6 separate regions of the Homo sapiens genome follow, and regions 2, 3, 4, 5 and 6 are each reported to be linked to region 1. The links are microRNA targets in miRTarBase. Many come from high-throughput screens and were not tested one by one. Region 1 holds a microRNA gene; each other region holds the end of a gene's coding sequence. Distances are between the middles of the regions.

What was found. The annotated mature microRNA hsa-miR-1207-5p reads UGGCAGGGAGGCUGGGAGGGG and lies in region 1 at 1,267-1,287, opposite strand. An mRNA with a match to its seed (bases 2 to 7 or 8) in the 3' UTR can be bound and repressed. Matches are read on the target gene's strand: a 7mer-m8 pairs with bases 2 to 8, a 7mer-A1 pairs with bases 2 to 7 and ends in A, and an 8mer does both.
Region 2: the mRNA of SLC38A4 is a reported target of hsa-miR-1207-5p. Seed matches in the 3' UTR shown: 7mer-m8 at 3,062-3,068.
Region 3: the mRNA of PPM1H is a reported target of hsa-miR-1207-5p. Seed matches in the 3' UTR shown: 7mer-A1 at 49-55.
Region 4: the mRNA of THBD is a reported target of hsa-miR-1207-5p. Seed matches in the 3' UTR shown: 7mer-m8 at 2,418-2,424.
Region 5: miRTarBase lists NDRG1 as a target of hsa-miR-1207-5p. Seed matches in the 3' UTR shown: 7mer-m8 at 3,580-3,586 and 7mer-A1 at 3,575-3,581.
Region 6: miRTarBase lists SARS1 as a target of hsa-miR-1207-5p. Seed matches in the 3' UTR shown: 7mer-m8 at 832-838.

The regions. Positions count from the first base shown.
Region 1 is chr8:128,046,357-128,050,445 of GRCh38, reverse strand. MIR1207 (microRNA 1207) reads right to left here and starts at 1,294; the gene lies at 1,208-1,294. The region is part of intron 6 of PVT1 (Pvt1 oncogene); the gene reads right to left. RefSeq lists a cis regulatory region at 903-1,155, enhancers at 1,034-1,579, 99-2,215 and a silencer at 1,768-1,951.
Region 2 is chr12:46,763,304-46,767,392 of GRCh38, forward strand. It overlaps SLC38A4 (solute carrier family 38 member 4), which reads right to left. Exons shown (of 17, transcript NM_018018.5): 17 at 1,458-3,499. The coding sequence ends at 3,398. Among named protein-coding and RNA genes, the nearest start is that of SLC38A4, 61 kb to the right of the region's middle.
Region 3 is chr12:62,645,010-62,649,098 of GRCh38, forward strand. PPM1H (protein phosphatase, Mg2+/Mn2+ dependent 1H) reads right to left here. Exons shown (of 10, transcript NM_020700.2): 10 at 1-3,627. The coding sequence ends at 3,480. Among named protein-coding and RNA genes, the nearest start is that of MIRLET7I, 43 kb to the left of the region's middle.
Region 4 is chr20:23,044,087-23,048,175 of GRCh38, forward strand. THBD (thrombomodulin) reads right to left here. Exons shown (of 1, transcript NM_000361.3): 1 at 1,547-4,089. The coding sequence ends at 3,691. Among named protein-coding and RNA genes, the nearest start is that of THBD, 3.5 kb to the right of the region's middle.
Region 5 is chr8:133,235,220-133,239,308 of GRCh38, forward strand. NDRG1 (N-myc downstream regulated 1) reads right to left here. Exons shown (of 16, transcript NM_006096.4): 16 at 1,956-3,900. The coding sequence ends at 3,659. Among named protein-coding and RNA genes, the nearest start is that of CCN4, 46 kb to the left of the region's middle.
Region 6 is chr1:109,237,152-109,241,240 of GRCh38, forward strand. It overlaps SARS1 (seryl-tRNA synthetase 1), which reads left to right. Exons shown (of 11, transcript NM_006513.4): 10 at 93-222; 11 at 580-1,031. The coding sequence ends at 737. Among named protein-coding and RNA genes, the nearest start is that of CELSR2, 10 kb to the right of the region's middle. RefSeq lists enhancers at 1-1,049, 2,990-3,685 and silencers at 2,174-2,588, 3,696-3,990.

The DNA.
Region 1 (4,089 bases):
TTTATTCACAGGCTGGAGTGATGTTGCGGTGGACTTAATGCCCCCTGAGAGGTCTGACTTCAAGCCTGTGGGTGACACGGAGCTACTGTTTTTGAGTTGGACAGGGACATGGTCAGAACTGTGCTTTCAGAATTTGGACTTGGCCACTGGAAGAAGAGACAGTTAAACTCAAGTTGCCCAACATGAGGCATGGGATGGGAGAGGTTGGGGAAGGGATGGAAGGAAACAGAGTGGGCACCAACAGGAAGGAAGCAAAGTCAGGAACTGCTGGCTGGAATGGGTCCAGGGAGAGGGAAAACCACTTCTCCTTCCTCTTCTTATGATTGCAAGATTAGTACTTGAGAATTAGGCTGCACAGGCCAGGACTTCCCAAAACTCAGGAGGGAAAGAGCCCAGAGCACGTGTCTCCAATGGAGGCTATAGTTCCAAATCACGTGATCATCGGTCATCTCCTTGCCCACCCTGAAGCCCTTGTCCCCAGTGTACTTTGGGCTCAGACAGTCCCTCAGGGGATACAGCAGTGTCCTTTCCTTCAGCATTCAGGGCAAATGAGAGGCAAAGAGATCAATGGAATGCAAAAGCGTTACTATAGATGAGAAGTCGGACGCACAGAGAGGTTCCACCACTTGCCTAATATCACACAGCAAGTACATGCCAGAATCAAAATTCAAACCTAGAGCCCCGGTGTAAACCTTACCTGAATCAGTCAGGGAGCAGCAGGGAGGCAGTGGAAGGATAGGCCCCCTGACCTCACTCCCCGCCTGCCTTCCCATCCTGCCAGTGCCTTCCAAACTGATACCAGAGAGCATGGCAGCCCTGTGTTGCATCCACCCTGATAATGCATCCACACAGGTCAGCCTTCTGGGCACAAAACAAGGCAGAGAAGAGCAAGGAGTGGACCTGGAGGGGCCCACGGAAGCTCCCCAGCACCCACCACTCCAATGGCCCAGCCCCTGGTAGGTCTCCAGTGCCCTTCACCCTACAGAGCCACAGAATCCCCAGACCTTGACGCTGCAGCTAGGGCCCGCCTGCCTCTCAAGAGAAGGGCAGGGCCCCACACAGGCAAGTGCTCTGCCTCCGCGCAAAGCTGGGCATGCGTCATCACACTCCCGCCTTCCTTCCTCATTCACTCTCCCTTGCCCTGCTTCTATCAGTGGCTCCAAGACGCAAACATCTCGAAATGACCTGCTTCTGTGTAGGTCAGCTAACAGAAGTGCTGTCTTAAGAAATGAGGGCCAGCTGATGCCCACTACCAGACCCAGCCAGCCCCTCCCAGCCTCCCTGCCAGCCCTGCACATGGAGGCCTGGCGGCCAGGAAAAAGAAAGGGCTCCTATCTCTGATTCCTCAGGGCCTCTGATAAGAAATGTCATCCCTTGCTGGGTAATATTACCAAGCCAGATAAAAATCTCTATCAAGCTTAAACATATGGCTGGCTGCAGAACACAGAGTCCAGTGGAGAAGGGTAATTTATTTGCTTAAGCTGAAAACCCTGGGCAGCCGAAAGAAGTGCCTGAATAAAAGAGTAAGAGCCAAATTATAACCTCTTCTGACTTGGCATGGGGATTTTTCCCTGGGAAGGATGAGACACCTGAGAACAACAGGGGGCTCTCCACACATTTCTCCTGACACAATAAGCGCTTTCGCCTTCCTCTTTCTTCAAAGGGCACTTTCACTTATGCTATCACATTTAATCCTCACTACAACCTCAAGAGAGGCATTTTTAGCTTCCTTTACAGATCAGGAAATTGAGATTCAGCAAGGTTAAGTAAAGTGGCCAAGGTCACACAGGCAGCCATGCTGGAGCGAGGACCCAAACCCCAGCAGGTCTGACTCACCATCAGATGGGGAAGCTGATCCCAGCTTCTGGGGAGGATCGGCTCATACATCCACTTAATCAGCGAAGTCAGATCTGCCCAACTTAACTGACAATGTCAGCTACACATTGTAATCTTGAAGGTCCATTTCAAGGCTCTCCCGTCTCCTTGTTTCTCTGTAGCCTAAAGGATAATGAGAAAGCCTTGCAGAGCACAGAAGCTCAAGGAAAAGGACGGGAGGCCAGGGATAGTACCCAGGAGAGCAGTGAGTGACCTCAGGGCTTAGATTCCAGCCTCATATGCTCAAGGAGTAGCAGGTAGAAGGAAACTGTGGAAAGAAAACTCCTCTCTCTGTTCATTCATTCATTCACAAATATTAGTGGAAAGCCTATTGTGTGCCTTCTCTAGCTTGGCCTTGGAGATACCAATGCAAATGGGCAGGCTAGGACCTGCCTTCATGGATCGTCTGTCTTCTAGAACTGACTTACAGGTCAGTAAAGAGGCAATAGCCACAGAGTGTGTTAAGTGTGTTTGTGAATGCAGAAGTTCACGTAACTGATCTGGGGTTGGTGGCTGTGCATTAGTGTGTAGCTGTTAGCATACTCCACACAGTGTTCTAGGCACTATTCTTTAAAAAGTCAGCATTGTTAAGGTTGACTTTGCTCTTTGGTAGTTAATATAGCTTCAAGATTGTTCCCAATTACTTCATATAGCCACTAATTTTTTTAGATTAATTTTTAATTCACAAATAAAAATTGTATATATTTATAATATATGATGTGAAGTTTTGAATGATGTATACATTGTGGAATGGCTAAGTTGAGTTAATTAACAGGTGCATCATCTCACATACTGATTTTTTTTTACTAATTTTTTAAACAGCTGTATTAGTGTTCCATTTTATCACAACTTAATCAACCAATCACTAACTAATGAGCATTTAAGCTGAGTCTCGTTTTTCTGTGTCAAACAATGTTGTAATGAAGATTCTCTTCTCATCATGCATGTGTTTCTGCATGAAAAGTTCTTAGGATTCGCCCAGTGTTTTTTAAGCTTGGCTTTTCCTGTGCTCTTCACTGCAGCAGTAGCAAGGTCTCAATAGCGTCCTTTACAAGATAATGGCTCCCACGCGCCCATCCTCTTCAGACCTGGTGGGGCTCTAGTAAAAGGGTTTTAGTTCTCTTTAGTGAGCAACTGCCACCATTTCCACAAAAGCACACAAGAAAACAAAAACGTTTCCATTCTGGTGGCCAAGAAACCACTCCTCTTATCCCTGCCTCCTCTGGCCCATGGTGACTTAGTTCAGAATCAAGCGGAACTTAGCAGCAAGACACCAACCTCTCTTCTCACAGGTCATTCCTAGAAAGTGTCAGCTTTCCTTTTCTTCTGGACTCTGAGAGATTCAAGAACACAGAAAGCCCAAGGCTAGCAAATCTCCACTGAAGCTCAGCATACATCAAAAACTAAAGCCTGGTGGAGAAGGCACAGCAAATGTCAACTGCACACTTGGGAGCCCAAAGTACCTTGGAGGAAGGCATCAGTCGTCCAACAGAACACCTTTGGATAGTCAAAAGATAAAGAGAGTATGACTCCATGGCTGGAACAAAGTAGAACCTCAGACAAGAGGACATCCTGTTCATGAGAGGTTGGCCATCCACTGAAGACACTGTGGGGGACCGTGAAGGCAGAGCAGACATGAGAAAGGCAGAGCCCCACTCCTTGGTCCCCTGGAGAAAACCAAAGAAAGGGCTGTAATCTACGTGATTAGAGATGGAGAAACTAAGAGCCTGGGGAACAAAGGAAAGGGCCTTACTCATTCTTCCTGGACAAGTTAGAGAAGAGGATATTTGAGTTAGATATTGAAGAGTGAACATTTAGAAGACAGAGAAAAGGGAGAGGACCTTCAGATGGTACTCACAGAGCAGTGTGGCATGGAGAGTGAAAGAATGTTCAGCCAGTGGCCAGACTGTAAAGGGTATTTCTCAGGTGCTGTGCTAAGGAGCTGGGCTTCTCCCTCCAGATGCGATGGGGGGCTGTGTAGGCTCCAGAGCAACAGAATGACAGATTAGAACTATGCTTCTCCATCACCATGGAGCACGAACTAGTGAGAGAAGACTCTCGGCCATGTGGGAACCAGTATCCTACAGTTCTAAGAACATTCCACAAGGCAACAGATGCAGTGGCTTAAACAGAGGCCTACGGAGCCAGGCTCCCGGACTTCAGATCCCAGCTCTGCCATTCCCAGGTTGAACAAGTTACTGACCGACCCCGTGG
Region 2 (4,089 bases), not on the chromosome of region 1:
TTGGCTTCTGGGGAGGCCTCAGGAAACTCACAATCATAGTGGAAGGTGAAGAGGGAGCTGGCACTTCACAAGGCCAGAGCAGAAGGAAAAGAGAAGTGGGAAATGCCACACACTTTTAAACAACTAGATTTTGAGATCACTCATTCACTTTCACTATGACAGTACCAAAAGGGATGGTGTTAAACCAAAACCACCCCCATGATCCAATCACCTCCCACCAGGCCCCACTTCCAACATTAGAGATTACAATTCTACATGAGATTTGGTGGGGACACAGATCCATACCATGTCAAGAGGCTTCTGAGGCTTCTTTTTAAAATTTCTGTCATTTTTTTCTTGGTATAGTTTTTGCCTTGTGGCTAGTTTTAATGTATGCTGATCTAGTTTGCCTTTATAAAGATGTTTAATTTAAAATAAGTTTTTCCAAGTACTATTTTTGTTTTTTTGTTTTTTTTTTTTGCATCTTGGTTAGATGATCCAGTCCTACCTATATGGGCCCAGGACATCAAAACATTTAATTTTGACTATACCACTCTGATTAATTTTATCTCATTAAGACATAAATTGCAAAACTTTGAGCTATGGTGACCTGGCCCCAGAAAGATGTAATTAAGACACCTTTAGGAAAATAAGCAACCATACCATAGACTGGGAAAATATATTGGCAATCTGGACATGGATCCATATTTAAAGAGCTTCTACAAATACCCAATAAAAACACATAACCTAAATTTTAAAAATGGGCAAAAGATTTGAATACACACTTCACAAAAGAAGATATATGAGTGACCATTAAACACTTGAAAAGTTTTCAACATTAGTTGTCACAGAAGCAGAAATGAAAATCACAATGAGTTACCATTTCAGACCCACTAGAAAGGCTAAAATGCAAAAGACAACACCAAATGTTGGCAGGGCTGTGGAGTCAGTGGAAGTTGTAGGTAGTACGGGTGGAAATGAAAATGGTAGAAACACTGTGGAAAACTATGTGGAAGTTTCTTATAAAGTTAAGCATATACTTACCCTGTGATCCGTCAATCCCCCTAATCGTTCATTCATAATCAATCCTTAGCACTCACATGTTTTCCCTGCCCCCATATTTTCTCTGCTCTTTATTTTACTATTCTCAGGTTTCTTCTATTCTCTCATTTTCTATCTTCAATGGATTCTTTCAAACTAACCATAAAAGACTCATTTCTTCCACATTCATTCTAGGTGGTATATATGTGATGCCAAAATTATAATCATCATAATAATTTAGGATTAAATATCTATTTTGCCAAAATAAGATGGCAATTATTTTCAGGATGATGGCTATAGATGTTAGTTATGTGTCAAAGGTAACAATGAAAATGGAACATAAACCAATATAAGAAAGACAGTATTTGGATTTTAAATTTTGTTTCATGGACAAATAACACAACATTCTTTAACAATAGATCAAAAATCACATCATAGTCATTTGAAAAGTTCATTTATTATATACCAATATACACTTTCTGTAATAAAAAAGAAGCCTCCCAATACATTGAGCCATCTTATAAATGAAATAAGAAAATAAAATTTTCATCTGTTTACAAATGGGGTTAAATTAATCAGCACAAGCTATCATATGTATGTCTGCCCTGCAGTATATATGAATTTTAATCCTGGTTATGAAGAAAAAAATGGTGCTTTATTATTTGGCACTATAGGATGCTCTTGAACATTCAGAAGATACCTTTTTCCACTTTTTATTTTTGTATACTTTTTAGATGAGTGAAAATGTAAATATATCCTAAAGATGCTATTTGGCAGATTTTTTTCAAATAATAGTAGCTCAAAAGTACGTGTATGATACTTGTACTTCATAATTGGCTTTACTAAAATATAAAATACACAAGTGATCTTACTATGATTTGAAAAAAAGGTAGTGAACTCCAGAAGTTTTAGGCTGTGAGTAGGAATTTTTAAATCCATTTTATGTAAGTTTGTTATAGAAGTGAGCAAGAATGATCGTGTGCATTTCTTCGTAGTGTTAGCACTTATACTTTTACAGAGAACCACTCAACACTGTATTAAATGGCCAATGAATGTCAGCAAACACCTGTGTGAGCTAAACTGAACTAAATCCTATTTTAGATATGCTAAATTAAAAGAACAACTTTAGTATGATAAAAATTTGCAAAAAGAAACTTATTTTCTTGTAGATCATCCTATTATTGTAAATATTGAAGAAGAGCATTGCCAAACTATATATAACTTAGGTTTCAAATTTAAATTATCCCCAGACATTTGTAGACAGATACATATGAATGGATTTTCGAGCCCACCAACTTAATTCCCTGCCCCCACCCCCAATAATATAAATGCTTTGACTGTGAAGAAAGAAAACTACACATGTAAAAAATAAAAATCAAATGTACCTTACATTAACATTCTGATGACTACAGAATAAGATTATATACATAAACATATAGCAAATCACAGTTTCCTGCACTGAATGTTTATCAAATAAAAATGTATCAAACAATACTGGGTAGTGTATCTCCACGATTGTGGTCTTCTAAAAATTCTGAATGAGGATGGAAGACGAGAGGGAGAGCATTGTTCAATGACAAAAGTATGACAAGAGGATTTAGGAATAACATGAAAAAGCAGATGCTTTCTAGAACAGGCAGTTTAGCTATAAGCATTATTTTTGTTGTTGCTCTATGATTGAAATAAAGCCCCTCTCTATATTTAGTGTTTTAACATTTAAATATAGATGTTTTAACATTTACAAAAATCTATTGAATATAGAAGTCACAACTCAATGTCACAAACAGGGTGGGCAAAATATTATTTTGCTGTTGACAATAAGATGCTCTAGACTGGTGTTTGACCATTCATGTACCTTACAGAAACAGAAACAGTTCCTAAGACATGCCTTTTGCCTCTGTTAGTAAACAGACCAGAGACTTTGGTGCAAGACTGAGAGAAGACATTAAATGGTGATAGCTTTGCCACCAGGGCATTTTTGTTTGATGTTCTGAGAATGCAAATGTTTGGTACTTTTTTAGGGGGTGCAGGATGAGGAGACGGCAGGGGAAAGAGTACTATCTGATGATTGTTACATGCAGTTACCCTTATTCTGCTCGTAAAGCAGCAAAAATACACCTTCATCATCTCACACTGCTCTAGCAAAACCTGGGTAGAAATGTGCACCACAGGTTTTATTTTAAACACATACACAACCATCCTTGACAAAAACAGTGATTTTCCTCTTCTGCAGGTGCCTGGTGATATTACTGGTAAACGTCTTTGGAATCTTCCTGTTATTTCCTATGAATAACATTCCAATCAAGATAATTCAAATATCTTTTGGAGTATAACTTGTAACCATTTCCAATAGAAAAAGAAAGTATTTTTCCTTGTGTTAGTGATGCTTGGAATTTGGAGGATCATAAATCCAGTCAATTATAATGAGTGCCATGCTTCCAATCATGAAGAATATTCCAACCACAAGGAAAATTAAAGCCTGTAATTCAGAGAGACTCTGTTAGGAGCACAGAAACCATACTTAGTACAATTTGTTTTTTAGTTGTTTACATAATATGGCAATCTGATCTATATATTGAGCCATATTATTCTTAATATCTCAGATGCCCAGGCCTAACCTATCAGTCAATTTAGAATCCTAGTTGAAGAAAGAAGAGGAATACAGTGGAGAGATACAACCTACAGGTTCAACAATGGAGTAATAGTTAATTGATTTAGTACACCAAGATGATGGAATACCCTGTGATTATTAAAAATCAAGGGACAGAAAAAGATTCAATAATCTAGAGAATGCTTACAATCTTTTAGGTGAAAAAGAGCAGGTTAAAAAAGAATAGCATATATGATATGATTCTAATTTTATAAAGCAAACAAAACCAAAAGCTTAATAGATGTTGCAACAAAAAGTGTATATATGTGTGTGTGTGTGTGTGCATACATATAATATACACACACATATATAAGGATATATGTACATACCTACATATAAAATACTTCAGCATTTTAACACCAGAAGAGGCCTTACATTTTATCACATACTTAAACCTCCTAATCCTACATATAAGAAAG
Region 3 (4,089 bases), not on the chromosome of region 1:
ACCTGTGGAAGGAAAACCAGTGACCACTTGTGGCCTTATAAAGTTGATTGGCAGGTGAGGAAGGGGATCTCAAGAGGAGAATCCGAATTTCAAAGACATGGGAGATTTGTCCCTAATGTTTTCATACTAGTGCTCTTGTTAAATGGAAAACCCTTCCTGAATGGGGAAGATCTGAGGCTAAATCTGGATCCTGGGACTCTCATTCTTGCCCACCACCATCTCCCTGTGGCTGTCATTCTTCCCTGGAAGTGAATGAATACTGAGAACACAGTAAGAGGAGGGTGGTCACAGCTGACTTCACAAAGCCTCATGGAGGTTAAGTTGTTCAAGAATTTAAAAAGTAAACACCCCAAATCCTCCAAAATGGAATACTGTGGAAAATAACTGAAATTTCCACTGCTTAAGGCTTCATCCTATTAAGACAGCTGAGTACTTGGCCTGGCCCGATTTTCACCTTTCCTTTTACACCTCAAGAACAGCAGATAGGTATGCATAACCACAGCAGAACACACCCTCCACCTCTCTGACTGCTGACACTGGCTACAGGAATAAGGCTTTGGTTATCATCTAGCAAAATGCCACAGAGCATGGACGGACTGAGTTTGTTCTAAGGAAAGGAGTTTCACCAGATAGTCTGAAGAGGCCCAGCCCAGCAAAGAGATTTAGAGCAGGAAAGCCTTTCATTAAAGTAGCCACACACCCCTCGAGACAACCATAAAGACTTGACTAGGAAATCAAAAGGTTTTTATTAAACAAGACTTCCTCTGAGGCTATTCGAGCAAGCAGATTTGGCTATAAGTCAGATACGCAAGATTTCTGAACCATGTATAAATACGTTCTGCAGAATTTCGAAGTGTGCGTCCTTTGACTTTTCCAGGGATGCACCAGGGGCCAACCCGTTATGTAGACACGGTTACTGTTTTAGGACTGGGTGACATGGGGCCTGGGTAAAAAAATAAGGCCAAAACTGAGTAAGCTCAATTTATAGAGCAATATCAGTGCTGGACAGATCTGCCATGCTTCGTTTACATCATGTTTCCTACTTTTGATTTCTTCATCTTATTTATAGTCTTCCTCCCATCCCCTGAACACAAACTTGACTTTATCTTCTAACTAAGATCTTTCCACTCAAGGGGGCGTAGGAAAACAATTCCTGGATGCCTTTCTAACTAAAACCAGCAGGACTAAGTGCTCAAGATTTTATAATATTTCGATTTAGAGGTTTCTAGAGTTATTCCTGAGACGTGCCATAGCAGTAAATGAATTGGTGAATTGAGTAGAAGGTAGTTGTGACATCTACACCCAAATTCTTACTCTGGTGGCTTGAATAAAACTGGAGAAGCTCAAGGTAGGGCCCAGATAGAGGCCCAGGAAAGCAAATAAATGAAAGACGGTGGGGACACAGGAAGGATCCCAAAGACGGCAGCTCAGGGTCCTCCACGGAAGACTTGCTCAGGTTTCCTACTTACACATGACTCTGAGTGCCAGGGCAGAACAGGGAGTGGACCACACTGCTGTCACATGCCCGAAGGTTTTCCTACAGCATCAGACTCTGCCACGAAGCAAAGCATTTTCCACAAACTTCTCTCCATAGAGATATCTGGGGTAGCTAAGATCTACTGCAGGAGGAAGAAACGTGCTGCAGATGAAGACAACTCCTGACAAGGCCGAAGTCCCATTCTTCCCAGGCCAACACTTGCACAAACACCTGGTGGCGTGAATTCCCACAGTATTTCACCTGCCAGACGGCACTGTCTCCACACCCTGGAATGAGTTCTTTCCTGAGCAGGAGGGGCTCCAGGCCTTTTCGAATACAATACCGACAACTCCAGAAATGCAGGTGATTTACTGCCCTGGAGGAGAGGTTCCTATCCTCTCCTCTGGGAAGAAATTCAAACAAATATGAGAACTGGAATTAGCTCTCTAGCATGCTGGGGGGGTCACGTCAGTGACCTTTTTTCCTTTTTGGGTCAGAAGAGTGTTTTAATTACTCAAAGTTGTCAAAATGGTGGCAATACCTCAGTAGCTCAGCAGGAAGAAGACTAGGTAATTTTGTGGCCGTACAAGTCTGCCTAAGAGACAGAAGTGAGTTTTATAATCTACTTGGCCATTCCTCCCAGCAGAGAAGCAGCAGGTAGATATGGCATGCACTGTGCCTGCTGCTGCTGCTCTTGTGGCGAACACTCAGATGTGGAACCATAGAGGGACCTTGAGGAGCTGGGACATGATTCTTTAGAGAAGAGAAGAGACAGGGAGCACAGCATGAGAATGGCCAGTCAACCCATTTCAAATTCTTTTATTAAAGTGCCCCCCGAGGGGCCTTGCACAAAGATGATGGGGAGAGCAGAACTGCTGCTCCTTGACAGAACTCTGATCCTTACACTTTGTTTGGAGTGGGCTTGGGGACAGTCACAAGCCATGAAACATGAATCCAAAATGGTCCCCAGATGAGCCATGGTGAACCAACAGATGCAAGCAACTTCTTAAACTGCTCTATTAAACACTGCTTTATATGTGTCCCCATGATACAGAAAAGTGGGATGGGGCCAGCCATTCCAGAAATGAAAATCCAGACTCTCACAGAGAACCCTTGAGCCACACAGGAAGACCACTGAAGACAACAGAGGAACTACTGGTCCACAGAAACACTCAGTTTCATGAAAACACACTGATTCGGTTAGAAAATGCAACTTGGGAACAAACATTACACAACAAAGACCCTCTGTCATGCAGGGCACTGGCCCGGATGCTGCCTGGGCTGTGTGGGCTGGAGGAGGTGGGGACAACCCAGCCTGGGTGGGACTTGGACACAGAACTTCCTTAGCAGGGTGTTGGAAAGTCCCAGGCCTGTTCTGTGGAAGGGGAATAAAAAACAGATTCAAGGAATGTCAAAAACACGAAAAAAAAAAAAAAAAATCCCTGCCTCACTCCACCACTGCCATAAAAGAATAGAAACAGAGAAGAAAAAAAGAGAAGGGGGGCGGGGGGCAGACGGCAATCCCTGAAATAAACCTCAGGCTTCCTAGAAGGTGGGCACTTACTTACATTTTGAGGCATGACCCCCTACTTTCCAATGCAGCACTTTTTAACCCGTAGATAAGCTGGCAGCTTGACAGGCTGAAGAGTCCTCTGCCATTTACACCTGAAAATGGCTGCCCCAGCTACTCTAGATAAAATAAATATGACATATATACCCCAAATAGTCAATGGCCACCTCGGAGGCCTATGAAAGGAACTGAAATACAACAACACTTGGTAGCAGCCTTTGTGTTTTGCTCTTGTTGAGTTGACCTGTTACTAAAGAAGAAATGGAAACCAAAGGGTCATCTTGAAGCATAGTCTTTTGGCCATGAACTCCCCGCTTGGGCTGGGAAGAGACTGCATCACTTGGAACTCAGCTGGGGCACTTCCCAGTTCCGTCCTGCCAAGAGGCATCCCAGCTTTCTTCCCCTCTGTCCTCCCAATCCCCTGGGCCATTTTCATGACAGCTTGTTTCCATGTATTAAAGGAATGACATATACAGAAATGTCGTCTCCTGAGCCCAGTCGGTCATTAGATATCCGCCATCCTCTGTCCTTCAGCACACCCCGGGCACGCATCACCAGGTCCTGAGCTGCCAGTGTGTACCTACACAGGAGAACCAGGAACGAGACAGTCAGTAGAGCATCAGACAGAAGCCAGGGTCAAGTGAGGCTGGGAAGGGGGAGGCATCACTACAGTTGTATAAATAAGTTTCAAATACACTTACAATACGAAAAAGACAAGGTCATCTTTTCCCAAAATGTAGGACACCTAATGTGAGATTATTGTTTACATGGTAGTGGGATAAGGCACTAAATACATTAGATAATGTCTTACATTATTCACCTCCTCAGTCCTCTTTTGATGTTTTTGATTGATTACATTGAGGGGAGTCTCAGTTTGCTGCTAGTATAGCTCAAAGAGCTGCTCAAGCTCAGAGCTTTCCATGACAAATGGTATCTAGCTTAAAAAGTACATGGGAAAAATCAGAACTTTTGTTTTCAATATATTTAGTTTTAGAGTTATATTGCTTTTGTGACAAAGAATAGTCATTTTCTATTTATGGTA
Region 4 (4,089 bases), not on the chromosome of region 1:
AAGTGTCAGCTTGTCCAGGAAGCTCCCTCTAGTCCTCCACTCTAAATCCTGCCTTCCTCGTGCGCCTTTTCAGAGTGTGCTGTGCTTTTCTTCCCCTGCACTTATCACTGTTTCTAAGTTAAGTACAATTTGGGGGTGATCAGTTGTTTTGCATCTTTCTCCCCTGCCAGAGTCTAACTTATATGGTAGGGACTTGTCATTGTGCCTATCACTATGAAAGGCACAGAGTAAATGCTCAGTAAATAATTGCTGAACTAATCTAAGAAATAGGTGAGAACTGGAAAAAAAAAATAACAAAGTCATTTGACTTAAAAAAATGCATTCTGTTTACTTTAAAACAGCAGGCTAGGAAAAACAAACAAACAAACAAACAAACAAACTTGAATGCTGGCTTATCCAGAAATACCACCTTGGCTTTCTTGCCCCGGACTTTTGTGCTATGAAATTTCACCAGCAACTGGTCCCTGGGAGTCTCCCTCAGACCTGGATGTCCAATGATGTGAACAGAAAGCAGAGATCACACAGGTTGACCCATGGCTCTGGTTTCACAAGGTCTATCCTGATTTTAAATTCTCAGGGATAGTTTTTAAAGCTAACTGATTTGTTTATGTGGTCCTGGTATCTTTCCCTGAGAGGCACTATGGCTATTTAGCGTTTTGAGAATCTCAAGTTCAGATGAGACCTATAAACAGAACTGCTGATCCCCCAGGCAGCAGGAAGTGAGGAGGACAGGGAAGCTCAGGGCCCCGCACAACTAATGTCCTGGGGCCCAAGTGCTGCATGAAGGGTTTTTGCCTCTAGGTTTTGAAAGTGTGTTTTGGTCTTCCAGTGTTCCTTAAGAAAATGCCCCTCTTCTGGAATAAGAAGAAATCCTAACGCAATGAGGCCCTACAAGTCAGTTTGACAGTGACTGGGAGCAGACTCTTTTGACAAACAGAAGGCTGGGTAACAGGGGGCGAACTATAAGGTGTCACTGTCTCCTCTGGTCTCCCAGCCCCATTTATCTGCACCTGTCCTGCCCCCATTTGTGTAGCTCTTCCTTCACAAAGACTTAGTCTGCTACTTAGGGGGAGCATGGCTCAGCTTGTTATCTCCATAGGGCACTGTGCATGGAGCTTCCCCAGCACACACACACACACACTAAAGCCATTACTTCTTCTGCGATGGATGTCAAAATCTCCAACCCGGTCTTCACAATAATCAGTCAAACTAAAACTCATGAGTTCAGCATTATCCAGACATATAAAGCATCTGAATATTTGCCTGGACTCTACTTGCTTTTAATTTCTTCTTTAAAAAATCTTTCCGAGCCCTGCATATTGCATTCAGCCAGCCCTACCACCTTAGAAAAGTGAGCCCAAGAAACGTGTGCATTGAAAAGATGATGTTGTTAATCTCCAAAAGAGATGAGAATGATTTCATACTGGATGAGACGTTTAGAAATGAATATTTGAATGAGAGCCACAAACTGAGACCCTTCATGACTACAGTGAATTTGGATATCTCGCAGAGGAGATAATGCCAAACCATACACCGGACACACAGCTGGGATTCGCCAGATGCCCCAGGAAGGGTTTATTTAATTCATTCCAACAAATGATCCTATAATGCATTTATGCATTTAAAAGCACAGAGACACAAGTCCTCATATATGAAGTTGTTATGGTTACAGAAAGAAAATAAATATTTGTGCACACAGAGATAGCATGAAATCATTCTACAGTGAAAATAATAGCCTCTGGAAAAAGCTTTGAAAATCAGAGATGGTGCCACCACCAGACAACACAAGTGCTGGGGTACAGGGCAGCCCTCCATGCATCTCATAGCATTTGCATGGTTTGTGAGCCCCATTTAATGACATAAAATGAGGGCACTGAGGGAGGAAAAGTGAACAGACACACAACCCGAGAGCACATTGTTATTTGTTTATTTTGTACAAGTGATGTCATAAGCAAGGATTTTGCCTGTGTTCTAGATTATCTCCAATAAATAAATAACTATGTACAAATATTTTGAGTTTACAAAATAGAAGAGGAAAACCTTTGTCTTACAAAAGTTACATTTCTATGATACATTTATTTCCATACACTGAAGCAGGATTTCATTCCTAGCTTAGCTGAACCAAAGACCTTGCAGACCCTGTGTGGCAGTGTCTAGAGCTGTGTACCTAGCCTTTTCTACCAAAGAGCAAAGCTACACAAAGAAAATTCCTCAGTTTCTTGAAAATAAGGGCCTGACTTGGCCTGCTACTTATAACTGATCTATATTTCATGTATTCCAGAAAATTGGAAGCAGTCTGGAATGGTTGTCCTCAAATTACTGAGCAGACACACCCCCTGCAGATCTTGTTAAATATAGATTCTCATGAACTGGATGGGGTGGAGCCTAGGATTCTGCATTTCTAACCAGCTCCCATGGGCAGGGCAGCTTCCAATTCTTGTTCAGGGGCCACATTCCAAAAGGCCTCTCTGAAATGGTAGAAATTCTCTGAGGACCTGATTAAGGCTAGGCCCTAATTGGGCATCCTCCAGGATCCATTCCCAAGCTCCCAATTCCACAAGACCAGTAGAGCTGGTTTTATTTTGGTCTACCAGTGACAAGGAACAGTGACAGTCAATTGCTAATTGGCATGAATCATGCAGTTTGAAGCTTTCTTGAACTGTCTCCTGGGAGGTGTTTGTCTCTTCTCTCAATCTAGAGCAACCTTCTGAACATTTTCAACACTGTCAAAAATAAGTAATAATAACAAAAAAGGAAATTGCATAAGAAGATTAGCAACAATTACCATTTTTCAGTACAAATCAAAACAGCAACAAAATTCAGGCTCACTGTTTAAAAGTAAAGATAAATACCTCTTTGGGTGTAATTTCTATGACAGTCCAGCAACATCAATTTAATACCTTTTACATCTCAACCTTTGTTTAAAATTATTTTGCTCTGGGAATCTGAAATTTCAGGATAAATTAGCAAATCTGGTGAAAAAGCAAATGGCCATTTTTATTTTTAGTGTTTTTGTTTCTGTTTCATGTAGGGGTTCTGTCTGAGCAGACAGCTAAGAGCAAAAGAAGTAGGGTCAGGCACAGGTAGGGTGACTCAGGTGAGTTGGCCCAGTTCCTGGGAGGAGAAAACTAGGAAGAATGGGGAATAAGTGGGGCTTGCTTCATAAATGTGAGAGGGCTAGGAAAAAAAAATTCACCAAGATAGTTTACCTGTCACATGACAAGTGGGAGTTTGTAGAGAGAGAGAGACCGGAGAGCTGTGCAAAGTGGATACTGGAGACATACAGGTAAGAACAAAGGAAACAAACAAAAACCTAAATACTTAAAAAAAATAAATATTTTAGTCATCCCTAGCCCACGAGGTCAAGGTCTGCCCAGAAGGCTGCCGACCAATAACGCTCACCCTCCTGCGCCCGGTAGTGAGGACCTGGGACAAATCGCAGTCTGTGTCTTCGTTACAAAATTGCCATCATTGCCCAGTGGTCCAGTGACGTCACGGAAGAGGCCGAGGCTCATTCTCCTCCCTCTAATCACCCCCTCGCCAGTTAGCCATGGAATAGAAGAAAACAGCTTGGGGGGTGCGGGGAGGGTCTTCTCCAGCTGTAATGCCAGCTAAGGTGCTTTGGTAGCAAAGCTGGGGGTGAGGAGGCACAGGCTCCTGGACGGAGCCAGGCTCCTGGACGGAGGCCGCTCAGAGTCTCTGCGGCGTCCGCTCGGTCCGCACGTGCTGCAGCACTACCTCCTTGGAAGGGGCCGCGCACTTGTACTCCATCTTGGCCCTGGCGGCGCCCTGCTTCTTGCGCAGGTGGCAGAGGAGCGCCAAAAGCGCCACCACCAGGCACAGGCTCGCGATGGAGATGCCTATGAGCAAGCCCGAATGCACGAGCCCCACGGCCGGAGGAGTCAAGGTGGAGCCGGGCGTCGGGCTGGGCGGGGGCTCGCCAGAGCCGCTGTCGCCACCGTCCACCTTGCCGGAGTCACAGTCGGTGCCAATGTGGCGGGCAAGGGCCGAGTCGGGCCCGCAGATGCACTCGAAGGTACCGGGGAGGTTGTGGCACACCCCGGAGCAGAAGCCGCCGTTTTCGCACTC
Region 5 (4,089 bases), 5.2 Mb from region 1:
TAAAATGTATACAACCAAACTGTGCCCCGATCACCTTGGGCACAGGTCGTCAGGACCTCCTGAGGCTGTCACAGGCGCCTGTCCTCAGCCTTGGCAAAATAAACTTTCTAAATTAACAGAGACCTGTCTCAAATTTTGGGGGTTCACACTTCCAAAGAATGAATATGGAAAAGTGGAAAGGGTAACCTGACGATAGAGAAATCTGGCAAACACTACCCCAGCCACGCCATCACCATTAATCCCATCAGTGATAAACCACAGTGATAGCGTGTGGCCTGGATATGATGTGAGAAGCAGGACAAATCACCTCTGTGGGTTTCCCCGAAAAACCCACAGCCCCAAGTTGTACTGTGAGAAAAACTACTTACAAACCTCAGTGGGGAGACTTGTGACAGAATGTCTGACTAGTGCTTCTCAACGCTGTTGAAGAAAAGGGAAAATCTGGCCGGTCGCGGTGGCTCACACCTGTAATCCAAGCACTTTGGGAGGCCAAGGCGGGTGGATTACCTGAGCTCAGAAGTTGGAGACCAGCCTGGACAACACAGTGAAAACCCGTCTCTACTAAAATACAAAAAAATTAGCTGGGCGTGGCAGCCTGCGCCTGTAATCCCAGTTACTTGGGAGGGTGAGGTAGGAGAATTGCTTGAACCTGGGAGGCAGAGGTTGCAGTGAGCCGAGATCACACCACTGCACTCCGGCCTGGGCGACAGAGCAAGACTCCATCTCAAGTAAAAATAAATAAATAAATAAATAAATAAAATAAAATCTGAGAAACTGTTACAAACCAGAGGAAGCTGAGACATGATGACAAAATGTAATGGGGTGTCCCAGATGGGATCCTGGACAGAGAGAGGACATTAGGGGAACCCCAGTGAATTCTCAATATGGTCCAGGGCTTAGTTAACAGCAACGTCCAACTGATCTCCCGGTTGTGACAAGTATGCAGTAACGTCAGATATTAGTGACAGGGGTCACTAAGTACAGGCTATATGGCAACTCTCTGTATTGTTTGCAACTGTCTGTATATTTTAAACTAATCTTAGTTTAAATAAGAGGTTACACTAAAATCTCTTTTTTTTAATGTAGAGTAGAAAACAAGCATTACAATGGTTGTCACTGGGCATGAGAAAAGGAATGATCTTTCCACATACATTTGTTTGTAATCCAAACAAAATGTAGCCTGGGTACGGTGACTCATGCCTGTAATCCCAGCACTCTGGGAGGCCTAGGTGGACGGATCACTTGAGGTCAGGAGTTCGAGACCAGCCTGGCCATGGCAAAAACCCCATCTCTACTAAAAATAAAAATAAAAATAAATTATCTGGGCATGGTGGCGCATGCCTGTAATCCCAGCTACTCAGCAGGCTAAGGCACGAGAACTGCTTGAACCTGGGAGGCGGAGGTTGCAATTAGCGAAGATTGTGCCACTGCACTTGAGCCTGGGTGACAAAGTGAGACTACGTTTCAAAAAATAAAAATAAATATTAAAAATAAAAAAGCTGTTTTCCTCGAATTATAGGTTGGAAAGTTTTTTATCCTCATCATTGTGCTGCCCAAGCTACTGGGCAATTGAAATGCAGCTGGTCTGAATGCATTGCGAGTGTGAAACACACTAGAGTTCCTAGAATGAAAAAAGAATGCAAAATACCTGGTCAATAGTTTTTATAGAAGTGGTAATATTTTAGACGTCTTGAGATAAATGAAATGTATTATTAAAATTAATTTCATCTGTTTCTTTCCACTTTTGAAAATGTGGCCACTGGGAAATTAGAATTAACATATGAGCTGACTTAAATTTCTGCTGGACGTGATGCTCCGAGGAAAGAATTCCAGAGATGAGGGGCTGGGGTCCCCTAGGTGTCAAGGACGGGCAACCCCCCAGTGAAACAGCCATCCCTGCACTGCAATGTTTCACACACACAATCTCTCAGGGACAGAAAAAAGACACAAGCCGCTGCAAAGTTACAAATTTATTGGTCTGGAAATAAATACAAATATCTCATTAAGAAACTCCTCTGGAAAGACTTGTGCACAATAGTTTCCCATCCGTACTCAGCCTCTCTTGCCCCGATCCCCGACTTTTCTACTCAAGGCCAGGGAAGGCCTCCAAGGTGATGGGCGGCAGGTAACGAGTCATTGCCTCTCACGCCACCTGGAAGGCTGGACTACTTCCTCCTCCCAACTGCGGGGTCCCAGAAATCCTCGGGTCCCAGTGGCTGACTTACAATATTCAATTCACTCTGACCAAACTTCCTATGAGAAAATCCACGGTGAGCCAAAATGAAAAGTACAAGGCAGTAGTACAGGAACCTGGCAGCCGCACTGGCCGCCCAGAAACGTCAGTGGTGCTGCCCCATTCGGCGAAAGGTTAGGGAGCAGGAAAAGAGGAAGCAGGAGAGGGAAGGAAAGTCCCATGGAATATGTATTCCAGAATCCTTACATTTTCTCAGCCACCGCTCCCCACGTGAGTTCCCACCCCCACCCCGACAAGAGCAAAGAGTTCTGAGGATCCAAGAACGTGACCGGGTCAGACAGGTTCAGCTACTGAGTTCACGTTCCAGCCCAGCTGTCGAAGATTGAAAACTGGATTTAAGCCAATCACACAAAATTCCTGGAACCAAGCTGGGATCCACAGAAATCACAACTGCACTGGATCTCAACACAACAACAAGGAATCCCTTACATCGAGTAACCCCAATTCCACCCCCACCCCAGTGCTCCTACTCCGGCCCCTGCAAGGACACTCATCACAGCCAGGGCAGCTGTGGAATGTTGCCCTCCATTCTAAGGAATGCAAAACAAATCTAAATGATCTTCTCCCTGAACAAGAATAATCACTGGCTCATGTATCAGGGGTGGGAGGTTGGGGCTGTGGAGGAGAGGCAGAAAGCAGAACTAAAGCCTTCAAAAACCATGATGCCCAACGTTTGCTGAAATATTTTTGTCTGTAAAGCCAGGAGATTTTGTCGCCTGCTTTTGCTGCACATTAAGAGGATGCTAGAAAAATCAAGCTTGTTTGCTTCTGCATTCAAAGCTTTCTAGATGCACCAACTTTAAAAATCGGTTTCTTCAAGTTAACTACGTAGATTTGTTGTTCCAAATGCCTCTAGCCTCGACATGAATCCCACCTTTTCCCCCTTCCTGTTTTGCCTGTTTAAAAGAGGTGCCTGCATGTCACTATTACCCCCCTCCCCAAATGAGAAAAGGATTTTGTTTCCGGAAACTGGATCAGCTTCTCCTCAGTTAAAGAGGAAACGGGAAGTGGGCGGCTGGCCTTCTGACCAGGCACCCGTTTGAACCAGGATGCTCAGGGCGGCCTAGGCTTGGCTTTGTGAAGTGTGTGCTGCTACGCGTCTTGTTTTTGGCAGTTTGGTGTCTCTGAGGGAGGGGAGGAGAGTGGCAACCGGCCACTGGTTAATGGAAGAGGATGCGATGCGGAGATGCTTGCTTCCTTCCTTTGGTCCACCGCCACCCCGCCTTTGGAGAGGGCACCCACGTAATAGACCTCATTTGTCTCCACCAGAGCTCACTCTTACAAAATAAGCTTTGGATTAATACCGAGTTAGGCGCAGTATGGCAGGCAGGGGGCGAAAAGGGGCCGGGGAGGAGGGGGCCACTACAGAGATCAGAGTCCGGGGGCGGCAGCTGGGCAGGCCGCCTAGCAGGAGACCTCCATGGACTTGGGCCCGGCGCTGTTCCCAGCAGCACCCGAGTTGGGGGTGATGTCCAGGTGGGCCCCCTCGCTGGTGTGCGAGCGGCTGCGGGTGCCCTCGCTGGTGTGGGAGCGGCTTCGGGTGCCCTCGCTGGTGTGGGAGCGGCTGCGGGTGCCATCCAGAGAAGTGACGCTGGAACCAGAGGCTGTGCGGGACCGCATCAGGCGGGTCATGCTAGCCGAGGGCACTAGGGGAACAAGAGACAGCCGGTTAGAGGGCAGGAGACTGCCAGGTGAGGAGCCAGGCATGCCCGTCCACCAGCCACATGCTCTTCTACGTGCCAGCCCCAGAGAAGACTTGATCCCTGCAGCCATCCAGCTGCTGGGCCCCCGTCCTCTCCATGTCCACTCGGAGAGAGAGATGGCAAGGCCCAGAT
Region 6 (4,089 bases), not on the chromosome of region 1:
GGGGAAGTCTGGTTGAATGGATGGTTCCTGGCCGTCAGTAAGACCCGATGAGAGTTGAGCCCGACTTCCCCTCTGGGACCCTGTCTTCCCAGGTGGAGTTTGTCCATATGCTCAATGCTACCATGTGCGCCACTACCCGTACCATCTGCGCCATCCTGGAGAACTACCAGACAGAGAAGGGCATCACTGTGCCTGAGAAATTGAAGGAGTTCATGCCGCCAGGTAAAACTCCCAGCTCATCTCATCGTTCTCCTCTTTTCTGTCTTCACACTCTTCTAAATAGCAGTCCCCTTTCAGGATATACCAGGTTTTTTTGTTCAGACACAGCCCCTGAAACTCTGTCTGCCCTCTCGGGCTGGGCAGGGCAGGGGGCCTGGTTGAGAAAGTAGCCAGTGCAGGTATGATGTTGAAATGCTGCTAAAATTCAGACTAGGGAAGAAAAGAATAAAGGAAACCAGTGCCTATCAAAGGGACCCCTCTGTTCAAAGGGATCATTGTCTTGTTGAATTCTCCCCAGAGGTCTTAGGGCTTTGACTCACTGAGAAACAACAGGTCATTTGGTTGGCTCTTCCCTCCCAGGACTGCAAGAACTGATCCCCTTTGTGAAGCCTGCGCCCATTGAGCAGGAGCCATCAAAGAAGCAGAAGAAGCAACATGAGGGCAGCAAAAAGAAAGCAGCAGCAAGAGACGTCACCCTAGAAAACAGGCTGCAGAACATGGAGGTCACCGATGCTTGAACATTCCTGCCTCCCTATTTGCCAGGCTTTCATTTCTGTCTGCTGAGATCTCAGAGCCTGCCCAACAGCAGGGAAGCCAAGCACCCATTCATCCCCCTGCCCCCATCTGACTGCGTAGCTGAGAGGGGAACAGTGCCATGTACCACACAGATGTTCCTGTCTCCTCGCATGGGCATAGGGACCCATCATTGATGACTGATGAAACCATGTAATAAAGCATCTCTGGGGAGGGCTTAGGACTCTTCCTCAGTCTTCTTCCCCGGGCTTGAACCCCGCCTCTGAGGTTCTCCCTGATATACACTTCTGCTTTTCCTTCCAAATTAGGCTGCTCCCTCCAGTTAGCAAGTCACAGAGCCTTTGAACAGGTAAGCGAAGGGAGGGGTACACTTAGAAAAAGCTCAAGGGGAAGGTGGAAGATGGAGTCTGAATCACAAAAGCTTGCAGGGCAAGGGCCAGGATCCTCCTTTACAAATATATTCCTGCTTGAAATCATTGAGGTAGGACTAGCTTAGAGACCAGAACTGTTTTAAAAGCCTCTTAGCACTTCTGTTCCCTACAAAGGACTCTGTGGAAAGCGAGAGGCTGTATTTAATCCAGAAGAGCCCCTAGCTTCTATGCCTAGCATGGGTTGGGGACTTATTAACAGCAGTTTCTCTCGTTACAGCCATCCCCACATGGGGAGACCAACTGCATACCAACTTGCTGCTGCACCTCCAAAGGATTGGGATAGCCAGCAGGGCAGAGGAGAGGAGAAAATGTTGTAGCCCCTTTGTGGAGCTCCCACTGTTGCCCTAATAGCCAGTTCCTTTCTCAGGGGAGGCTGATGTTCAGGCTGTTTATTTACCTGCTGCCTTTCATCTGCAATCTACAAACCCTTTACTTTAATAACAGCTTCTGTTAGTTTAGTGCCTCTCTCCTAGGAGGTTAAAATACTCCCTATAGATGATCTCTTTTATCTTTGTGATGGTCCCAGAAGGTAGGGTGGGGACATGATTATATGATTATGCTTATTCCATCCTTTGGAAGACAGAAATACAAGGACGGTAAGGGAGATGAGACAACGTGGCCTGATGGAGGTCGGAAGTCCTGACTCCTCGGCAGTGCTTTATGTTTCTTTGGGAGGTTGAGAGCTGGAATGTGAACTGGGCTGTCACTTAGGAGCCTTTATCTCACCTCAGCTTCCTTAGTCCCTGAGCAGCGACTTGGGCCTGCTGGAGCATAGTACCAAGGAAAGGGGCCATGTGCTCCATTTTCCACTGGGGGCTTGAGATTGATCCTATTAATCTTGCTGCTGGAAACCCTGTCAAAACTGAGGTAGGTGCGTGAAGGGGTGACAGTGGCTCTCTTGTCTTGCCTGGCTATGCCAGCTGGGGGCCCACAGGCAGACCCGCCTGGGCCGTAGCCCATTGCCCCAGCTCTGGGATAACAAAGCCGGGACAAGGGGACAAAGAGCAAGCTGCTCCCATTTGTAATTCAGAAGGACCAGAAACTCACATTTCCTGTGGCCTCAACTATTTGGTTTGAAGAAAGGCAGCGTACACAGTGTGCAGGAGGCTAGTTTTGCCCCACCCCCTATACCATTCCAGAAGCCCACTGGGAACTCTCACAGGGCCCTGAACGCCCCTGCTCTGCCTTAGCTCTGTCTTAGAAGTCCCTACAGCTGCCTGCACCACTCCCCACGCCTACCTGCTTAGGCTCCTGGTGCCTGTCACCTTCCTACCAGTAGGAGGCTCTGCTTTTTGCCATGGCCCTGAGAGCTCTGTGGGAGGGCAGAAGCTGGGGCTTTGAGTCCCTGAGGACCCAGCTGACTTACCTGCTGGAGCTGGCTGCCTGGACTCTCAGCTGCTTTGTGCAGAGAGACCCTCCTGCCTTGGGCAGCCCAGCTTTCCCTGCCAGCCTTCCTCCTGCCCGTGTAGGGACTGGTGTAGGAGCCTGGCTAGGAAGATGGCTGTATGGACAAACTGGCTTGTTAGCAGAAAGTAACTATAAGGGACCCCATGCTTCCAGAAGCCAGAGGAGAGGAAGTCAATGGTAGTGAAGGCAAGGATGACTGTGGCTGAGGTCCCTCCCCACAGGTCATACCCAAGAGCACAACAGCAGGAGGGCACACACGGTCACCGAGTGCTTACCTTGTGCCAGGCACCATTAGGAGCAGGGTTTACAGAAAGAAGGTAACACAGTTCCTGCTCACAAATAACTGTTGGGAAAGGTGTGGTTCGCCTTCCTTCAGAGAGGGAAAACCAGACACTCTCCCTCCCTGAGGCAGTGGGATGGGGCTGATGCAAGCTTCATTTAGGAGGGGCCGACCCACCTGGAAGCCGAGCAGTTGGGAACAGGCCCAATAGCCTTGACTCCACCCTGGTAGTTGCCTCCGCATCCCACGCCTGATGCCCTCATCTCTGGCACCTTGACCTGCCCCATCTCCAACCTCAGCTACCCAGGTTACCTCAGTTAGCAAACACCCTCCAGAGGCCTAGTGGAGTGAGTCAGAGCCCTGGGTCCCTCACCAACCCTGGGTTCCCACACCCAGGTATTCAGGGCCCAAGATGCAGGTCTGGGTGCTTTAGGCAGGGAGTGAGGAAACACTGGGACCAACAGTCTGGCCTCTCCACCAAGAGAGACAACCATAAGCCAGACTTCTAGAAACTCTAAAGAGGCTGGTAACTGGGGACCCAACGTAAGGCCGAGGGACCTGCCTGCGCTCACAGTCCAGGCTGGGCAGGGCAGCTCATTAGCCAAACACTGAAACCTCACTCCTGGGAACCAACATTCTCCTAGCCGTCTGTCCTGCTTTTCCTCCCCTGAAGCTTTTCCGGTTTACCCCAGGTCCTGAGAATGCCTCCTCTCCCCGAGTCCCCATCCTTCCCCAGGGGGTACGCGGCGGGGGCGGCCCTGGCTGCACTCCCAGGATGAGTCTGACAGGCAGAGCTGGGATGGGCGCCAGACAAATGTACTGCGTGTCGGAGCCTGTGCCGGGATGAGGGGCCTGCCCCGCTCTCCCAGTTACCTCCCAACATGGGGTTCCCCAGCAGCTCTTCCCAGGTACAAAAGGGGAGTGCTTCCTTGCAGCCTGGACTTGGCCAGGTCCTGGTGGGGCTGATGCCTCGGCCTCTGACATTGCCCTTTTAAGAGCCCTCTCCGGCGGGGCCAACCTGTAATCCCAGCGCTTTGGGAGGCCTAGGAGGGCGGATCGCCTGAGGTCAGGAGTTCGAGACCAGCCTGGTTAACATGGTGAAACTCTGATTCTACTAAAAATACCAAAAATTAGGCGAGCATGGTGGTGCGCACCTGTAATCCCAGCTACTCAGGAGGCTGAGGCAGGAGGATCGCTTGAACCCAGGAGGCATAGGTT